3 separate regions of the Homo sapiens genome follow, and regions 1 and 3 are each linked to region 2. The links come from fine-mapping of genetic effects on plasma protein levels. A gene starts in region 2. Each other region holds a variant in brackets. All regions are shown on one strand. Distances are from middle to middle.

Region 1 (2,764 bases), 14 kb before region 2:
TCTGTAAACAACCATCAAACTCTTCAGCATCTCTAGGACATAATCACTTCTGTCCATTTCCATCTTCAAATAAATCAGCTTTTGTTTCTGCTTCATTTCTGTAGCATCCCATTGTCACATTTTAGCCACCGATAAGAATTCTACCTCTGGGATGTGGTTTTTCAGTATTAAAGTATCCACCTTCCTCCCAGTTCTTTAATTTAATTTCACAGCAAACTAATGGGACTCTCACTTCTGCCAGTCTTGTAATCCACACATCTGTAATTGTTCCAGCCCCTGTAGGTTCAGTGAGTCTGTATTCATGAACTTGCTGCGTGTTGCAGAAAGTGGAGCACTTTCATACAATAAAAGCTGAATATTTCCACCTAGCTAGCTTCACAGTTTCCAGAAAACAAAGCTGTCACACAATCCAGTACTATGCTCTTTTGAAATGTGTTCCATTTTATAATTATAAGCCAGAATAAACAGATTGTGTTGAAGACTACTGATTTCATACACTTAATTCATGACATTTTGGTAGATCTGATCCATGATTTCCAGAACAGCTGCCATCAGTGTTGGTCTCAACCCAGAAGTACACCCTTTGCTTCTGGTTTTTATTTTTTTATTTTTTATTTTTTTGAGATGGTGTCTCACTATGTTTCCCAGGCTGGACTCAAACTCCTGGGCTCAAGCAATCCTCCTACCTTAGCCTCCTGAGTAGCTGGTACTACAGCTGCATGCCACAGTGGGCAGCCCATTTTTTACTTTTAAAGACTGATCCACTGAAGTCTGGGGTGAAGAGGAGCCAAGCAGGCATCCATGAGAAAAACAAAGAAGCTCAAAGCTTAATTCTAGAACATGGGCCACAGGTAAATATCCAATGTAGTCATCTTCCTCCTCCAGTCTGGGAATCCTTTCTGCCATCCCAGTAATACCAGTAATGATGTTTCTATGCGAGATGATGACTCCCTTTGGAAGTCCTGTGTGTCTACTCATGAACATGATTACTGCAATAACCGAGGGCACTGGTCACTTTGGGATCTGTTTTCCACACTCACCTTCACTTTCTACTGCAGCCATGATGTCCATGATAACAACCTTGGGAAATTGGGACAGGTCAGTGGCTTCCCATTGACAGTGATGATGTGTCACAGGTGTGGGACCAAATAAACTATGTCTTTCAACTTTGTTTCCAATAATTCTTTACTAGCAATGAGATTAGTTACTTTTGTTTCATTAATCCATGGGCCCTGGACCTCCTAAAGTAGCATATAATTTTATGAACTAAATGTTATGCATGAAACATACCTATCCAGCAATCATCCACTTGGACGTGGTCTCACAGAACATGGCAATGTTGGTCTTTGGTTTCTGCCCCAACATCTGTAAGCTATTTCCAACATTAAAGGCTCAAACGATGACATCTTCATAGGAGAGCAAATTATGATGTCCAAGAAGAACCTTTTAAAATATGTTT[A/C]CATTTGGTTGTACTTAATCTTCATTTAAGATTTCACATGTTCCCAAGAGTCTTTTGCTCTTCCTTTTTTTTACAGACGTAAAAAACTTTATCTATTGTATCACATCCAGAGTATAATATTGAAGCCCAGCCACTCAAACTGCTAACAGATTTGTATAGACTCAGGTTTTGAATTTGTAGGCTTTGCTTTAACTTAGTTTGGTTTTTCTTGTCTTGACTCAGACAAAAATTAAAATGGAATATATGTTAAAATAGCATAAAGTGATATCTATAAATTGTATGAAATATAAAATAATGAGCTTGATGGTCCCTTTTTGCTTCATGGTAGATAGTTCTGAAGATACATGGTTATTCATAAGTGCTCAAAAAGTAGAATTAACATATTTCAGCAAAAATCTGTTGACAATGGCAGGAAGTACCTTTATAATATGCATCTTTGTTTCAATATATTTGCTGATTTATTATAAAGGATCCAACTCAAGAATAGCCAAATGGAAGAGACACAGAGGGCAAGAAATGTGGGGAGGAGGGGGAGTGGAGCTTGGCACTTCATGTTCTCTCTAGGCAAACCATACTCCCCCATCTCGATGTGTGCACTAACACAGAAGCTCCAGATTAGGTTTTACAAGAATGATTTATGATATGGGAAAAGCTTACTAGATACTGTGAGTGAGTAAAAGGTAGCAAGCAACCTACATGAAATGATCCCAATAAGGGAATTTTCTCTGAATTACATGATTATAAGTACTTTTTATTTCTTCTTTATATCATTCAGGATTTTAAAAATTCTCTGTAAGCCAACATGGAATATTCTTTCTTAAAAAAAAAATGTTGTTAGAGACAAGGTCCTGCTAAGTTGCTAGCCCTGAACTCCTGGGCTCAAGCAATCCTCCTGCCTCAGCTTTCGAAGTAGCTGGGACTACAGGTGCATGCCACCATGCCAGGCTAGGATACTCTTTTGATCAACAAAGCAAATTTGTACCTGATTGGATCCTACCATGTACTCAGGATCTTATCTCAGTGATCGTGGCACACCACTGGTCTCAGGACACCCACACCATGGTCCAGCCTCCCTAAGCAGGCACTGCTCAGCCTGCCCTTTCACCATACACTCATACAAGGAGGAAACTGAGCCCTGTGGGCACCCTTCAGATCCACAAGCTCAAAGATTCTGAACCTCCGGTGGGGCTGTGCTCACATAGTCAGGGCAAGGTTCCTGGGAGCCAGGTTTTTGCATCATTCCCAGGAACACTCCCTAGCTCAGTCTTGGGGGCCAGCAGGCAGCAATGACAGGGACGCTGCCCT
Region 2 (2,764 bases):
GGGGAGGAATTGCCATCTTTTTGAGAAGAGGGAGTGAGACTCAGAGAATGATGCCTTTTTTTTTTTTTAACCCAAGGTCACCCTGCTTGTCGTTGGCCAAGCCAGGCCTAGAATCTGGGTCTCCAGACTCTGGGTCTGCTACTCAGGGCACAAAAGAAGAAAACATTCTGAGTTACACCCCTTCTTGGCCAGTAGTTGAGGGTAAATTAACGAAAAGAATTAATTTGTCTGTAACTCTTGTCTGTTGCTCTCTGTTTAGGAAGAACTAAAAACTCCACAAATTCAACAGTCTCCCCTCTGTCTCCACTGAACTATCCCTCCATTTTCACCACACTTTTTGGCTGCCATTCACAAAAAAAGCTGAAGCCAGCCATGGGTAACTATTAAAATCCATGTGGTTGCAGAGACAGCATCCCTATCACATGAGCTTTTGCCCTGTCCCCAAGGCCCTCTGTCATCTCCACTCCTTGTGGGCCACCACAGCAAGGCTGACTCACTGGCTCTGAAGAAGATCCACAAAGCCTGTGGAGAGGAGGCCCACAGCTCTCCAGGATGCATGAGGAGGGGCCACCAGGGATGGCCACCCCAGCGACCCCCATTTTCCCTCTTGGCCCATGGGAAATCCTAGGAGGCAACATAAGCCTGTGGCAGCCCCTCCACAAAGCCCTGCCTCCAGAGTTCCCATAGGCGAGAATGTGTCCTCAGTGGAGCATTACCTTGCACAGCCTGTGAAGTGCTCTGTGCGGGGATAAAGGCAAGTAACGTGGGGTCCTCTCTCAAGGAATTGCTAGCTTATGGGGAGAGAAAACTAAACGTGGAAGCCCCAACAGTGTGACAAATGCCCCATGAATGGCAGGCAGAAGTTAGAGTATGAAGGGGGCCCCACCTCAGGAGGTCGGGGAGTGTGGCGTCAGCCACTGCCCCATAGCAGGATGTGTGCAACATCTGCCACTGGTACTCAGCATCTGCCACCTCGCTGACCCTCATTTGACCCTCCCAGGCAAGTGCTGTGATGACCCCCTCCCTGGTGAGGAGCCGGCCAGGACTTGGATCCAAGAAGTCTGGCTTCAAACCCCATGCTCTGACCGCTCGATGGCACCGCTTCCTTGGCAGGACATCTACAGCTCCCAGGGCACCCAGGGGACATCAGCCTCTGAAAGGGGAATGGTCAGACCCGGGAGGCCTTGAATGCCATGCTAAGGAGTTCGGACTTGACAAGAGGCAGCAGCAAAGGGTTTTGATAACCTGGTTAGACGTGCTCTGATTTATTGTATTTCACTGCTGCAAGATTTACTGGACAAAGAGGAGGAGGGGGAGAAGACAGTGAGTGCAGTGAAAGGTGTCTAGAAGCCCAAGCAAAGGCCAGGGGTGGGGCGTAGAGAGGCAATGGAAAGGCACCCAGACACCCAGGCTTCCAGCCTGAGCGCGGAGTGCATGCAGGCTGCGCGGTGGCCGCCCGGGTTGCAGGGAACGCGCGGGCCAGCGACTCTGCGGTGCTACCCCGTGCCCGCACTCACCCAGGACGGCGCAGACCAGCAGGGCTCCCACGGCGAGCCTCATCTTCCGGGTGCGGCGCTGAGCAGCGAGCACAGTCGGACTCGCTTCTGTGCAGCCTCCGGCGCCCCGCGTCCCTTTATTCCATTCCCGGCCTGGGCGGGCTGGGCGCAATCTTTGACCTCCCGTGTTTGTGCAGCCGGGTTGCCCAATCGCCCCTCTCCCAACCCCCCTTCCTTACTCGTCCCACTGATCACCTCATTTTCTGAGCTCTGGAGACGACCCGCGAGTGGAAGGAGTCCAGCACAGAAATGTTGATGGGAAGGGACATGAAGCACAATGCAGCCATTGTCATCGCGGCTCGCTCGGTGCCAGGAGCGGCTACGGCGGGCTGGGAGCCGGGGGGCTCTGCTCCTGACTCCAGGGCTGCAGAGCTGGTCCGTGCCACCAGTCCTATCTGCGCAGTCCACAGAGGAAGACTCCGAGGCTGGAGAGGGAAAAGAACTGCGCCCAGACCCCACACTAGAACTGCAGAATGACAGGCAAAGCCCCTTTTGGGGGAGGATGCAGGAGAAACAAGCTGGGCTCAAGGTCAAAGACAGACTCAGCACCTTTTGCTCCCCACCAGGTGTCCCTCGAAATCCTGCTCCTGGGCTCTCAAAGGTCCCCCACGGAGGAGCTGCTCCCTCTTCCTGCCCCGCTGAGCTCAGGCTCCTGGGCTGGAAAACTTCCCGCCCTCAAGCTTCCTGTGGGACACCTTAGACTAGGGACAGAGTCATAGGGGAAGATGAACTCCCTCCAACAAGAAGGTTCCAGGAACATGGTCAAGACACTGTGAGGCTCAGAACAAAGTGTCATCTTAGCACAAAGCAAGCGGCCCAGTGGACGGTGTGGCCTGTTCTTACAGCCTGGGGCCACCATGTCCCCCTCTAGTCGATGAGTCTCCTAACCAGTTTAATTACACATCCTTATCATGAAAAATATTGAACTTGTGCCTTCTATATGCTTATATTTTAACTAAAAAATGTGTACACTTCAATCATGCACAAGGAATAGAAATTTGTAAAAGGATGAGCTAAAGATGAAACTCATTTTCAAATGTCGTTTTGCTTATGCGGCCTTATACAGGATTATTATCTCAAGGCATAATATACTTGGGGAAAGGTCAAGATTCCTTCCACGAAGTGTAAATCCAGACTTCAGAGATTTTGCCAAAAGTTACTTCTTATCCAACCTGACCAGATGGTCATTCATTCTGTCTCATGTTTTA
Region 3 (2,764 bases), 24 kb before region 2:
GAAGAAAAAGAGCTCAAAGAGTTTCTGTAGCCAAAGTGTATTACAGAGTGTGGTGAATTCAATCATAATGGCAATATGAACAGAGGAGTCTTCTTGTAGGACAGGGTATGCCATCTGGGAAGGCTTCCTGGAGGGGCTGGTGCTGAGCCGGTTCATTCTGGATGAGTTGCCCAGGAAAAGTGAGGAGTTGGGGAATGAACATGAGAGAAGGCAGGGAAGTATTCACAGCTTGAATTCCAGTGGGCTCTGCTAGCACTTAGTGATACTGAGGGGTCAGGTGTGGAGTGCTCAGTCTGGCCAATGTTTGTTTTGCTTTGTTTTGTTTGTTTTTATTAATATTATGGCTGTCCAACGTTCACCCACAAGTTAACACCCATTGATTCTTTTTTTTTTTTTTTTTTTTTTTGAGACGGAGTCTCGCTCTGTCGCCCAGGCCGGACTGCGGACTGCAGTGGCGCAATCTCGGCTCACTGCAAGCTCCGCTTCCCAGGTTCACGCCATTCTCCTGCCTCAGCCTCCCGAGTAGCTGGGACTACAGGCGCCCACCACCGCGCCCGGCTAATTTTTTGTATTTTTAGTAGAGACGGGGTTTCACCTTGTTGGCCAGGATGGTCTCGATCTCCTGACCTCATGATCCACCCGCCTCGGCCTCCCAAAGTTCTGGGATTACAGGCGTGAGCCACTGCGCCCGGCTTAACACCCATTGATTCTTGCTTGAATCAGTTATCAATATATTGGTTGCCAAGTGATAGTTTTCTAACTCTATCATTCCTTCCACATTGATTAGTTTTCCCTTCTTCATTTGTTTAATCAGTATTGCCTCATGCATTCTTATTTCTTTCAATGGGCTATTATCCCTTACTGCTATCATTATTTATTTTAATGCTCAAAATTCCCAGACTTGGCAACAGGAGATCCTTCAAATTGGTTCTTGTATGCTTTGAGTGTCCCATCACTGTTTGAGCACTTCAGTGTGTTGTTCTAGGCTCAGCATCTATTTTTCCTGCCCCAGCCCTGAAGTCAGCTATTTTTCCAAGGAGTTCTGGTTCCTTTTAGTAAAGAAGAGTACTTACAAGCCAATATCTTGGTGCTTACTCCTGCTGGTATGCCATTGCCTCTAGGCCTTCTCAATGGACACAACCCAGAAGTACAGTAAATAGCTATAAAAGGCATTACTGGGATAACTGACAACAGTTAAATGTGGACTGTGGA[C/T]GTGACGAGTATTAAATCCACATAATGTAAAAGATCCTGATCTTGGTAATCATACTGTGGGTATGCAAGAGATTGTCTTATTCTTAGGAAATAGGCACTGAAGTATTTAGGGGAAAGGAGCACAAGGCTTGCAGCTGTGGGAGTGTGTGTTGGGGAGGATTTAGGGCCATTGGGGGCCCCATAATCCTGATCATTCTGCGCACTCAGGTGAACATGTCTCTCTTCACTGAGCAGACAGACTGAGAATCAGAGCTTTGAAGTCTGACAGTGTACATAATACTTCCACAAAGGCATCCCTGAATACAAGTGAATACCAGTGACCAGGATCTAGTGATCTAGGGGGACAGAGGAGCAGGTGCACTTACCCCCAGTGTTCTGTGGGACAGTCTGGTGTTTCACAAAGGCCACATCTCCCTTCTCAACCAGACACCTGCAGAGGTCCAGAAGTGGGAGAGAAAAAAAAAGGCGGTCAGAGTGACTTATCTGTCATTCAGGGGGCTACCTTATAGATTCAGGACAGCCATCTGAAAACAGCAACTGTAACTTCCATTCTAACAGTAAGCAATGTAAGGAATAAAGAGAACAAAAACAAAACACTCTGAATTGATTGTAGTTTTACAATCTCAGTTCCACATACTAAATCTTAATTTTTTGTACTGTTTCTCTGAGAGATGACATAATTTCCCTGACATCAACAAGGATAGTAGGGAATTGATTTTCAGTGAGGTGATGCCTCCCCCAGCATATGAATGAAAAACTCAGTTCCTTCAGGTTCTCATACAAGGCGAATGTCTAGGCAACATTTGTGAGAGACTGAAACTCCATCACAAATTGCAATTTGTGCTGTCCTTCATTCCTTTGAAAAAGAATTTTAACATTTATGGAGCATTTGCTATGTTGTGGGTTTTTTTGTTTTTGTTTTTGAGAAATGCAGAGAATATGGCAAAACATGGCATAAAGGCACCTGACTCTACTAACTCCCAGGCCACATATCTCTGGGTGTGGTAATGGGGGTTGTAACACAGCTCTGAGCTACAAGTCCCCAAGAAGTTTCAGAAAAGAAATAATAACAAAATAAACTCTGGTTAGTAGGGTTCTAATTTTAATTTTGACTGTCTTCCAGTCCTTTGAAAGGGCATACCACACAGATGATGAACTAGTGTGTACTTCAAAATCTACACAAGGCCCTCCTCAATGAGCCGAGTGGGTTGGACTTTTGGACAATGGACTGAACCCTGCTCTCCATGTACTTTAATCCCCTTGCTTCAAGGAAAAGAACCTGCCTATTACTGCATCGGTTCAAGAGTTTTGGGGGTAGCTAGCTGAGAAGACGGGGTACCTATTGTGCCACATATTGATTTAATTTTATTTTCTTTGGAGTTTGGAGTCTTTTTATCAGTCTGGTACATTTTACTTCATAGCTAAGTTTTATAAGACATGTTTAGAAAAAGAAGCCTTTATACACATTTATTTTAAGCATGTTTATACATACATGTTATTTGAGCCTTTTCTCATGACCTATAATTCTCAAACATATGTTATCACCAGAAAA

Alleles and levels. Alleles are on the strand shown, and positions count from the first base shown. The strength of an association depends on the size of the effect and on how common the allele is.
In carriers of allele C in region 1, the plasma level of the protein whose gene starts at base 1,608 in region 2 tends to be higher than with A alone (strong association).
For the plasma level of the protein whose gene starts at base 1,608 in region 2, T is the low allele of the variant in region 3 and C is the other (weak association).

Evidence for each region. A credible set is the group of variants that fine-mapping cannot tell apart. PIP is the posterior inclusion probability: the model's chance that the variant is causal. The UK Biobank Pharma Proteomics Project read protein levels with antibody pairs (Olink). The fine-mapping took linkage between variants from a reference panel, not from the people measured, so its PIPs are less certain.
Region 1: its variant is the best candidate, but not a certain one, in a credible set for the plasma level of the TF protein (UK Biobank, PIP 0.85).
Region 3: its variant is the best candidate, but not a certain one, in a credible set for the plasma level of the TF protein (UK Biobank, PIP 0.74).

Annotation. Positions count from the first base shown.
Region 1 is chr3:133,759,351-133,762,114 of GRCh38, reverse strand. All of the region lies in intron 9 of TF (transferrin), which reads right to left. It also overlaps the pseudogene ACSL3P1. Among named protein-coding and RNA genes, the nearest start is that of TF, 14 kb to the right of the region's middle. The variant A/C (reference allele first, on the strand shown) is at 1,460.
Region 2 is chr3:133,745,237-133,748,000 of GRCh38, reverse strand. It overlaps TF (transferrin), which reads right to left and starts at 1,608. Exons shown (of 17, transcript NM_001063.4): 1 at 1,518-1,608. The coding sequence starts at 1,560.
Region 3 is chr3:133,769,386-133,772,149 of GRCh38, reverse strand. It overlaps TF (transferrin), which reads right to left. Exons shown (of 17, transcript NM_001063.4): 14 at 1,578-1,642. Among named protein-coding and RNA genes, the nearest start is that of TF, 24 kb to the right of the region's middle. The variant C/T (reference allele first, on the strand shown) is at 1,213.